Linked DNA regions of Homo sapiens. The protein of the gene in region 1 binds, or shares a complex with, the protein of each later gene. Each region holds a gene or a part of one and is shown on either strand. Other genes may lie near its edges. The genes, in order: FETUB and MEP1A. A codon is read from its position in the direction of its gene.

Evidence for each region.
Region 2: the proteins of FETUB (region 1) and MEP1A are in contact, whole or in part, in a cryo-EM structure (PDB 7UAI), measured with the Homo sapiens proteins. Residues at the interface, in NP_001362516.1 of Homo sapiens: Phe109, Phe110, Lys144, Lys145, Tyr148, Met149, Thr150, Cys151, Pro152, Asp153, Cys154, Pro155, Ser156, Ser157, Ile158, Ser196, Ser197, Gln198, Trp199, Val200, Val201, Gly202, Tyr205, Phe206, Thr242, His245, Trp246, Phe249, Val250, Ser251; in NP_005579.2 of Homo sapiens: Asp126, Gly127, Cys128 (codon at 1,665), Trp129 (codon at 1,662), Ser130 (codon at 1,659), Glu131 (codon at 1,656), Val132 (codon at 1,653), Gln145 (codon at 1,614), Gly146 (codon at 1,611), Cys147 (codon at 1,608), Tyr149 (codon at 1,602), Ile152 (codon at 1,593), His155 (codon at 1,584), Glu156 (codon at 1,581), His159 (codon at 1,572), Tyr164 (codon at 1,557), His165 (codon at 1,554), Gln167 (codon at 1,548), Ser168 (codon at 1,545), Leu184 (codon at 1,497), Gly186, Tyr187, His189, Asn190, Asp192, Tyr194, Tyr214, Gln215, Phe217, Ser218.

Annotation. Positions count from the first base shown.
Region 1 is NC_000003.12:186,650,111-186,653,674, reverse strand, and holds the end of FETUB (fetuin-B isoform 1 precursor), read right to left. Parts: intron 2,458-3,564; coding exon 2,374-2,457; intron 1,413-2,373; coding exon 1,044-1,412; 3' UTR 534-1,043; downstream 1-533. UniProt on the Homo sapiens protein: Protease inhibitor required for egg fertilization.
Region 2 is NC_000006.12:46,817,274-46,821,194, reverse strand, and holds part of MEP1A (meprin A subunit alpha precursor), read right to left. Parts: intron 1,667-3,921; coding exon 1,491-1,666; intron 1-1,490.

The DNA.
Region 1 (3,564 bases):
GCCAGCACGCTGAGCCAACTGAAGTCTTTTTAGTTGAGCCACCTGAGTACAATTCTGCTTCTTTCAGACCCTGACCAACACGGTGTAAGACCCCACATGACACCCCCACATAATCACTTCCTTCTTATGAGAAGCAGATAAGAGGAACAGAGTGTGAACATTGTCTACGTCTCTTATGCAAATTATGCTGAGGCCTGTGTGCCTCTTCTAACAGCCACCAAGATAGAGGACAATAGCTGCATCTGCAAATTCTCTGTCAAAATGTCCAAAGTCTTATCTGCTGTGCATGTGTGCGTGTGCACATAGGTATCACTGAATGAGGGGAAATTGGCCCTGCAGTGTTTGAAAGAAGGAAAACGTAGACTGTAATTGAATGCTGTGATGAGCCCTCCTCTAACTGTCCTAGAGAAATTGTAACAGTGATGAGAACTGTCACGGTCTGCTGCTCCCACAGTGTCTAGCACAGGCCACATGTGCACTTCCCTTCTATGTGCCTCCAGCTCTAAGTGAATTACCCCACTGTTGAGACCTGGAGACTTCCAGACAGATGAAAAGAGGTAGAGGGTTGGAAATGGTATGGGCCCTACGCAGCTAATACCTGTCCTGGAATTAAAGGGAATTTAGGGACTGAAACTGTGCTGGGCATTAGTTGCTCACGCCTCCCGGTGTTAGGGAAAGTATCTTTACTCATGCAATGCTTTCATGCTGAGATTTCAGCACATATATACTGCTGAAAAGATAAGTATCTTTATAAGTGAGTGGCTGAAGACATAAGAGAGGCATCTCTCCATGGTATGAGACTGCTCAGTTTAGGAGGTGATGCAGCTCAGGGTACAAGGCAGTGTACAGGGTAGAGTGCAGCCCAAGCCGAGGGCTCAGTCTCATTATTTCCAATCCCAGTCAACATGCTGAGACCAAGAAGAGTCAAAAAGGCGTCCTTCACTAGCCACTCTACGTGTGCACGCTCTGTCTCTGTCCATCGTCCCCATCGCCTCCCATGTCATGCGGCGCACCATACCCCTACAGAAGACTCTGTGTGATTCTCATGGCGGAAGGACAAGAGGGCTGGCATTCTGGGCTGGCCCTGGGCACTCAGCAGTGCGTGCTTTTTCTTTGGGGAAAGGCAGGACCACCAGCTTCTCCTCCATAGGCTCCAGGAAGAGGAAGGAAATATCCAGGGTTTCTCCCTGGGGATTCGTGGTTAGGTCCAGATGCACAGGAAAGGCCTCCTGAGGGCCCTTTTCCTGGGAATTTTTATCATCCAAGTCAGGAAGATATTGGACAGATCCTCTTGGCCCAGCTTTGGAGGGGGAGTCTGTTGGGGGGGTGTTTTTCTGCTGGGATTCTTCCACCTTGGGAAGGTTTGTAGGTTTCTGGTTAACAGCAGAGTTTTCACTTCCAGTGGCTGGAGCCTGGAATGAGAACATTTTTGAATGTAGAGTTCCACAGGGAAAGTCCTCCCATGCCTAGTACCAGCCTAAGCTGATCTGTGCCTTTCTGTTGGAACATTTCAAAGGGAGACTAGGTAGAGGGATGGGCCTCCTGGTGAAAGGGTTAAAAAACAAAACAGATAAGGGCCAGGGGGAACCAGGACCTGTAGAAGCTTGACTGTGAGACTGTAAGTCTCACAATTTCAGAGCTGAATAATGGCCCAGAGAGGTTCAATGACTCACTCGAAGTCTCCAGCAAGCTCTCTTTCTGTTCCCAGTAGTGGAAGCAGCAGGTGCCTTTCCTTGCTTGTTTATTCTGCACCAGGCCTTGTACAGCACCCTTCATTCAGGTCCTTTCACTTGCTTCTCACAGGGATCTGAATGATGCAGTGTCGCAATCCCATTTTATAAATGAGGCAACCAAAACTCGAACAGGTAAGTGTGTGCCTGTTACACAGCTCACAGGTACCAGAGCAAAACTGGATCCCAAGTGTCCTGTTTCAACTGCTTCAAATATACCAGGCACAAATACACCTCAAATATAAACTGCCTCTCAAATATACCAGGCTACCTTATAATAAGTGCGCAATAAACACTTCTGGAAAGGGATTGAATATTTTCATGGAAATAACTTCTCCCTGTGGCTTGAGGTAAGGTTTCTTTGGGACGCTGAATTTAATGTCTCAGAGGCTTGAATCACATCCAAGCCAGCAGTTCCCTGTTTCTGAATTTGTCTTGCTTATTCTGCAGGACCATATTGCGACTGAAACAAGGCATAACAGGTCTTTGACTGGCTATCCTGTGGATGTGGACTCAGGCTAGCCTGCGCAAAGTGGTGAGCAAGGTGGTTGGGAAAATCAAAGGAGGGGGTAAGGTAGTGGCAGGTAACTATCGATAATCTGCTCTTCTTCACAGAAAGACAGGCAATTAGATTGAAAAATACCTGTGATTCAAAGAAGTCACAAGTCACAGAGACAAACTTTTCCCAGTGTGTTCGAGTCAGAGAACCTTTGCAAAGACCAACAGGCTAAAAGAGAAAATACAATGTCATGTGAGTATTACCAGTGATCACAGATGGAAATCAACTAGCTTTCTACTTGTGTAGATACACAGCCAATCAACATTTTTATGCTTCTACTATGTAACAGGTAGACTCTGAGTCAATTCTTTCTAGATCACCCCTACCAAGAAATCATCCAAATTAGGCTAAATTGCCTCCAATAATGAGAAACTCAGTATTTCTTGAGGAATGAAACTCTGTTTGTTAAAAAAATTCTTTGTGTTGAGTGGAAAGTTATGTCCATACAACTTCTACCTCTTGGCCTTAGTTCTACCCTTGGGTCAATTAGAAAACGTGTTTTCATCTTTTATATAGCAGCCCTTTAAGTGCGTTCCACCTGACATTTCTCTTCTCAGACAAAACCACTCTCAGCTCCTTAAATTTCTCTTTACTTAAAAGTAAAGTAGCTTTGTTTCCTTATTACAAATGTAATAGTTAGAATATAGATAAACAAAAGAAAATAAAGACCTGTAAATTGCATGAAATATATTTGTTACCTGCAGTGATTTGATTTCCTTCCTTCCAGTCTTTTTTTCTATGCATATACATTTTTCTTCTACAAAATAGAGTCATATTATATATATATTACTTTATAACTCTATTTTGTCACTTAACAATATATTGTAAAAACCCTCTTATGGCATTGAATGATCTTCTAGGGTTTTTAAAATAATGGCTACATAGTATTCCTCTGTGATGTTTAACAAGCTCTCTTTTGTTGGACAGCTAGATTGAATCTAATTTTTCTGTTGTTTAAACATTGAAGCTATATCTTTTCATGTATTCCTAGTTACTTCCTTAGAATAAATTCCTAGAAGAGGAATTTTAGAGTCATACTGTATGTACATTTTCAAGCATAAATAGAATGTTATAATAAAATGTTGCCTCAATTTCTAAAGAAGAGCTCTTAAGTATATCCACATAAAATTTACTAAATTTATCTAAAAATAAACTAAAAATAGAACTACCATTTGATCCAGCAATCCCACAGCTGGTGATTTACCCCCCCCCCCCACCCCCGCCAACAAAGAAACTACTATAAGAAAAAGACAACTGCACTTGTATATTTATCAC
Region 2 (3,921 bases), on another chromosome or scaffold:
ACAGGATGAGAAACCTCACAGGTGATTTTGATTAGCCCTCTCTACCCTCATCTCATGTGAAAATCATTGACCATCTTACTCCAAAATGAACTACTACAGTCCTGGCAGAAAACTTTTGAGGATTCATATTTAATTATAAAGCTTGGTCAGTTCTTCCAAGCCCCCAAAAGTAAAATTATTATAGATGCACTGCAATATATGAATCCGCATATAAAATTGGGATCTAAATAAAACAGATACCTACACAAGGCTATTATTTGTTTTATAAAAGCCATGCCGGAAACAGTTAAGGCATTTTAAATATATTAAAGTTTCATTAATCTCTTACTGCCAAAAACAATGTTTTTGCATTCTCTTCACTAATTCCTTCTTAAAAACTAGGTATCTTCAGAAACACAGCATTGACTTTTTTTTTTTCTACCACATCAGGAAGCTGCTCAATAAATGTTTTAGTGTACTCAAAAGCACTCTACTTCATTGTCTCAAACAATTAAGGAAAGTAAGGGCCGGACACGGTGGTGGCTCATGCCTGTAATCCCAGCACTTTGGGAGGCCAAGGCAGGCCGATCACCTGAGGTCAGGAGTTCAAGACCAGCCTAACCAACATGATGAAATCCCATCTCTACTTAAAAAATACAGAATTAGCCAGGCATGGTGACACACACCTATAATCCCATCTGCCTCCCTGAGGCAGGAGAATCGCTTGAACTCAGGAGGCAGAGGTTGCAGTGAGCTGAGATCGCACCATTGCACTCCAGCCTGGGCCACAAGAGCAAAACTCTGTCTCAAAACAAAACAAAACAACCTAAAGAACAATGAAATAGTTAAAATAATACAACGGAATAATACGTAAGACAAAACTGTTGTATTTTGCATTGTATGAGGTGGAGGCAGAAGAAGCAAGGTGCTTAGAAACAAGGAAGAAAAAAACATTCACCTTTGATTAATCAGAACCCAGATAACTAGCTAGAATTAACATAATTGGGGTGTTATTTCAGATAAAAGCATTTATTTTTGTTTTTGTTTTTAAACATTTTTTATTGATTTGGTAAAGCAACTGGAAAAAATACTTCTTGAGTATGCCCTATAGTCATGGAATAATCAACTAAACCTCAAACAGCCTTCTAGAGGCACAGGAGATTTCACATCCAGAGAAATGACTTTAAAATCTGGATTCACTTTCCTCAGTAAGACAGGAAAGTAGAGTTTTAGATAGAGTTTTAATGAAAACACTGATATAAAGCAAAGCTTCTGGTTAACTTTCAGTTGACCCCCACAGTGAGTTAACACCATTCCTTGAGGCCCTTATCTGCGATGAATTCCGGTCAGACCAGCACAGCCCACATAAAGGGCCAACAAATCATAACCTCTTCAGAGTCTTTCTTCCCACTAGAGAGGCTGAAGCTCCTGTCCACACAGATTTGGCTTGGTCATCTCAGGATTGGTCTCAGCCAGTGATAAATGTGATAGCAATCTCCGCCCAATCACACCTGAAAGAATTTGGTCCCACCAGATGTTCACATAATCATCCCGGTCCGTCCTTGACTGCTCGTGGTAAAATCCCAAAGCATGCAGGATCTCGTGTTCTATGATGGCCTTATAGGCACATCCTTGGCCAATGGAAATGTTCTGTCCCACATGTTGGTCACCAACCTCAGACCAGCACCTTTAAAGAGGAGAAGAGGAAAAATTTCTTCTAGAGAATTTTTAAGTGGCTGTCATTCACAGTACTCCAAAACACAAATTAGGAGGAAATTAGGCTTGATTTTAGAAAGAAATTACCAACAGCATTCTCATATGCTAATGGTCCAAAGATGGGGACTGCTTAAAGAAGGAGCATTCCCTAGAGGGAATACTGTGCAGGCTTTAAAAGTGAAGATATAATACATTATAAAAGTGGCACATACTCAGAAGCAAATCAATCCTATTATAACAATTCGTCAAGGTAGAAAGCAATAAACATTGGCATTCCTTCTCACCTCCACAAACCCACAGGGCACTCCAAAGAATAACACTGTTGCCTTTATCTAAAAAATTGTTGTCTGAGGGAAAGCTGTGGTTGATTTAATTTTTTTGAGATTGGGGGTCTCACTTTATCACTCAGGTTGCTGTGCAGTGCCACAATCACAGCTCACAGCAGCCTCAGCCTCCTCTACTCAGGTGATCTTCCCACCTCAGCCTCCTGAGAGGCTGGGACTTGGAACCACAGGCAGATAATGTTTTTATTTTTTTGTAGAGACAGGGTTTTGCCATGTTGCCCAGCCTGGTCTCAAACTCCTGGGCTCAAACGATTTGCCCTCCTTGACCTCCCAAAATGCTAGGATTACAGGTGTGAGCCATCGCACCTAGCCCTTTTATACTTTAATAAATTTTCAAAGTTCCTATAATGAACAAGCATATATTTTATGATCATAAAAAGATCCTCATTAAAAAGCAAATTAATAAAATCCATGTCTTCGGAAATAGCAGATCTACAGTGTTATGACAGCACAGAGAAGGCTGCCTAACTTATTTCTGAAGGGTATCAGGCAAGGAGGACCTGTAGCGTCCCTCTGAAATCAGTGGGCTCGGGAACCTCTGTCAGATTCCCTGAATTCCTTACGGTAGAATGTCTTCCTCTTTCATTCTCCCCCCAATTATTTTTTCTCTTCTCATAAACCCAATTTTTCACCTCTATTAGCAAACCCAAAGCTTTCCACAAATTGTCTCCTATTGGCTTTAAATTGTCAAATGAAGATCTATATTTTACCCAATGCTGAGCAGAAAAGAAAGATTTCCTGATAGTCATAAATGCAACCAATGGATTGCAAGTTTCATGGTGACAGTCACAGTGTCTTACCTGCCAATGTTCTCCCCAAGACTACTGACACAGTATACCTTCAAAGGCTAACAGATTTGATTTTTACTCAAAGATGAATCTTAGTTATTTATTTTCTAATAACTTTATTAAGGTATAATTTATATACTATAAAATTCTTTAATTTTAAGTATACAATTCAATGACTTTTAGTAAATTTACAGTGTTATGCAAATGTAACCATGATCAACTTGCCTCTCTGATAGTGGCATTTTATTACCAAATCAGAGTTTACTCTGCAAAATATTCACAACTCAGAGAAAGCATTTATTATTCATCTTTCTTTTTAAATTCCTCCCCCAACAGAAAGACATAAGTTGCAAAAATACCATACATTCCACCTCACTGAGAACTTTTGACCTTGTCTTTCTGAAAGAGTCCCAGTTAGCCTCCAACTTCAGGAGACCAGTGCCCTGAAGGGCTTAGGGGCACTTTGGGCCAGTCCCTTCCCAAAATATCTTCCTCTCTTTTTCCCTCTCTTAAATTATCTGTAACAGAGACATCTCCTGGCCATAGGTGATTAGGTTTCCCAGATTCAGTGCTTTTACAAAGAATGTCTCTCAAAGCTGACCTACCCCTTAATCAAGTAGTTGGGACTCACTTGAAAACAAAAAAAGAAGTTGGGAGAACTTCACTGTGAAAGTGAGAATTTTGGAAAGTAATTATGTGGATTTTGTTTTATTTTTAAGGAGTTTCTTTGTGAAAAAAGAATGATGCAAAAGTGGTAGCTGAAGAATGGAAATAAATTTGTTAATAAAGTTAATTGTTTCTCTGACGTTTTCAATGAAAAATTAAGGGTTTTAGCACTTCCTTGAAGGTCAGAGATTGCCAAGGGACAAAATGCAGTAGTCAAAAGCAGAGAGGCCCTAAAATGTGTGGTCTTTGCAAGGCCTGAGATATACTTTAAATGTTTCCCCTTTACAGAAAAATAAACTATCTAACTACTATTGGTTATCTCCATTTATATGACCTGCAAAAACCTCAAGCAATAAAACACATGCAGTAAGATGAGTTTACTCTCCTACCTCATCCCCAAAGTTATTCTTTCAGCAATATTCCCAGCC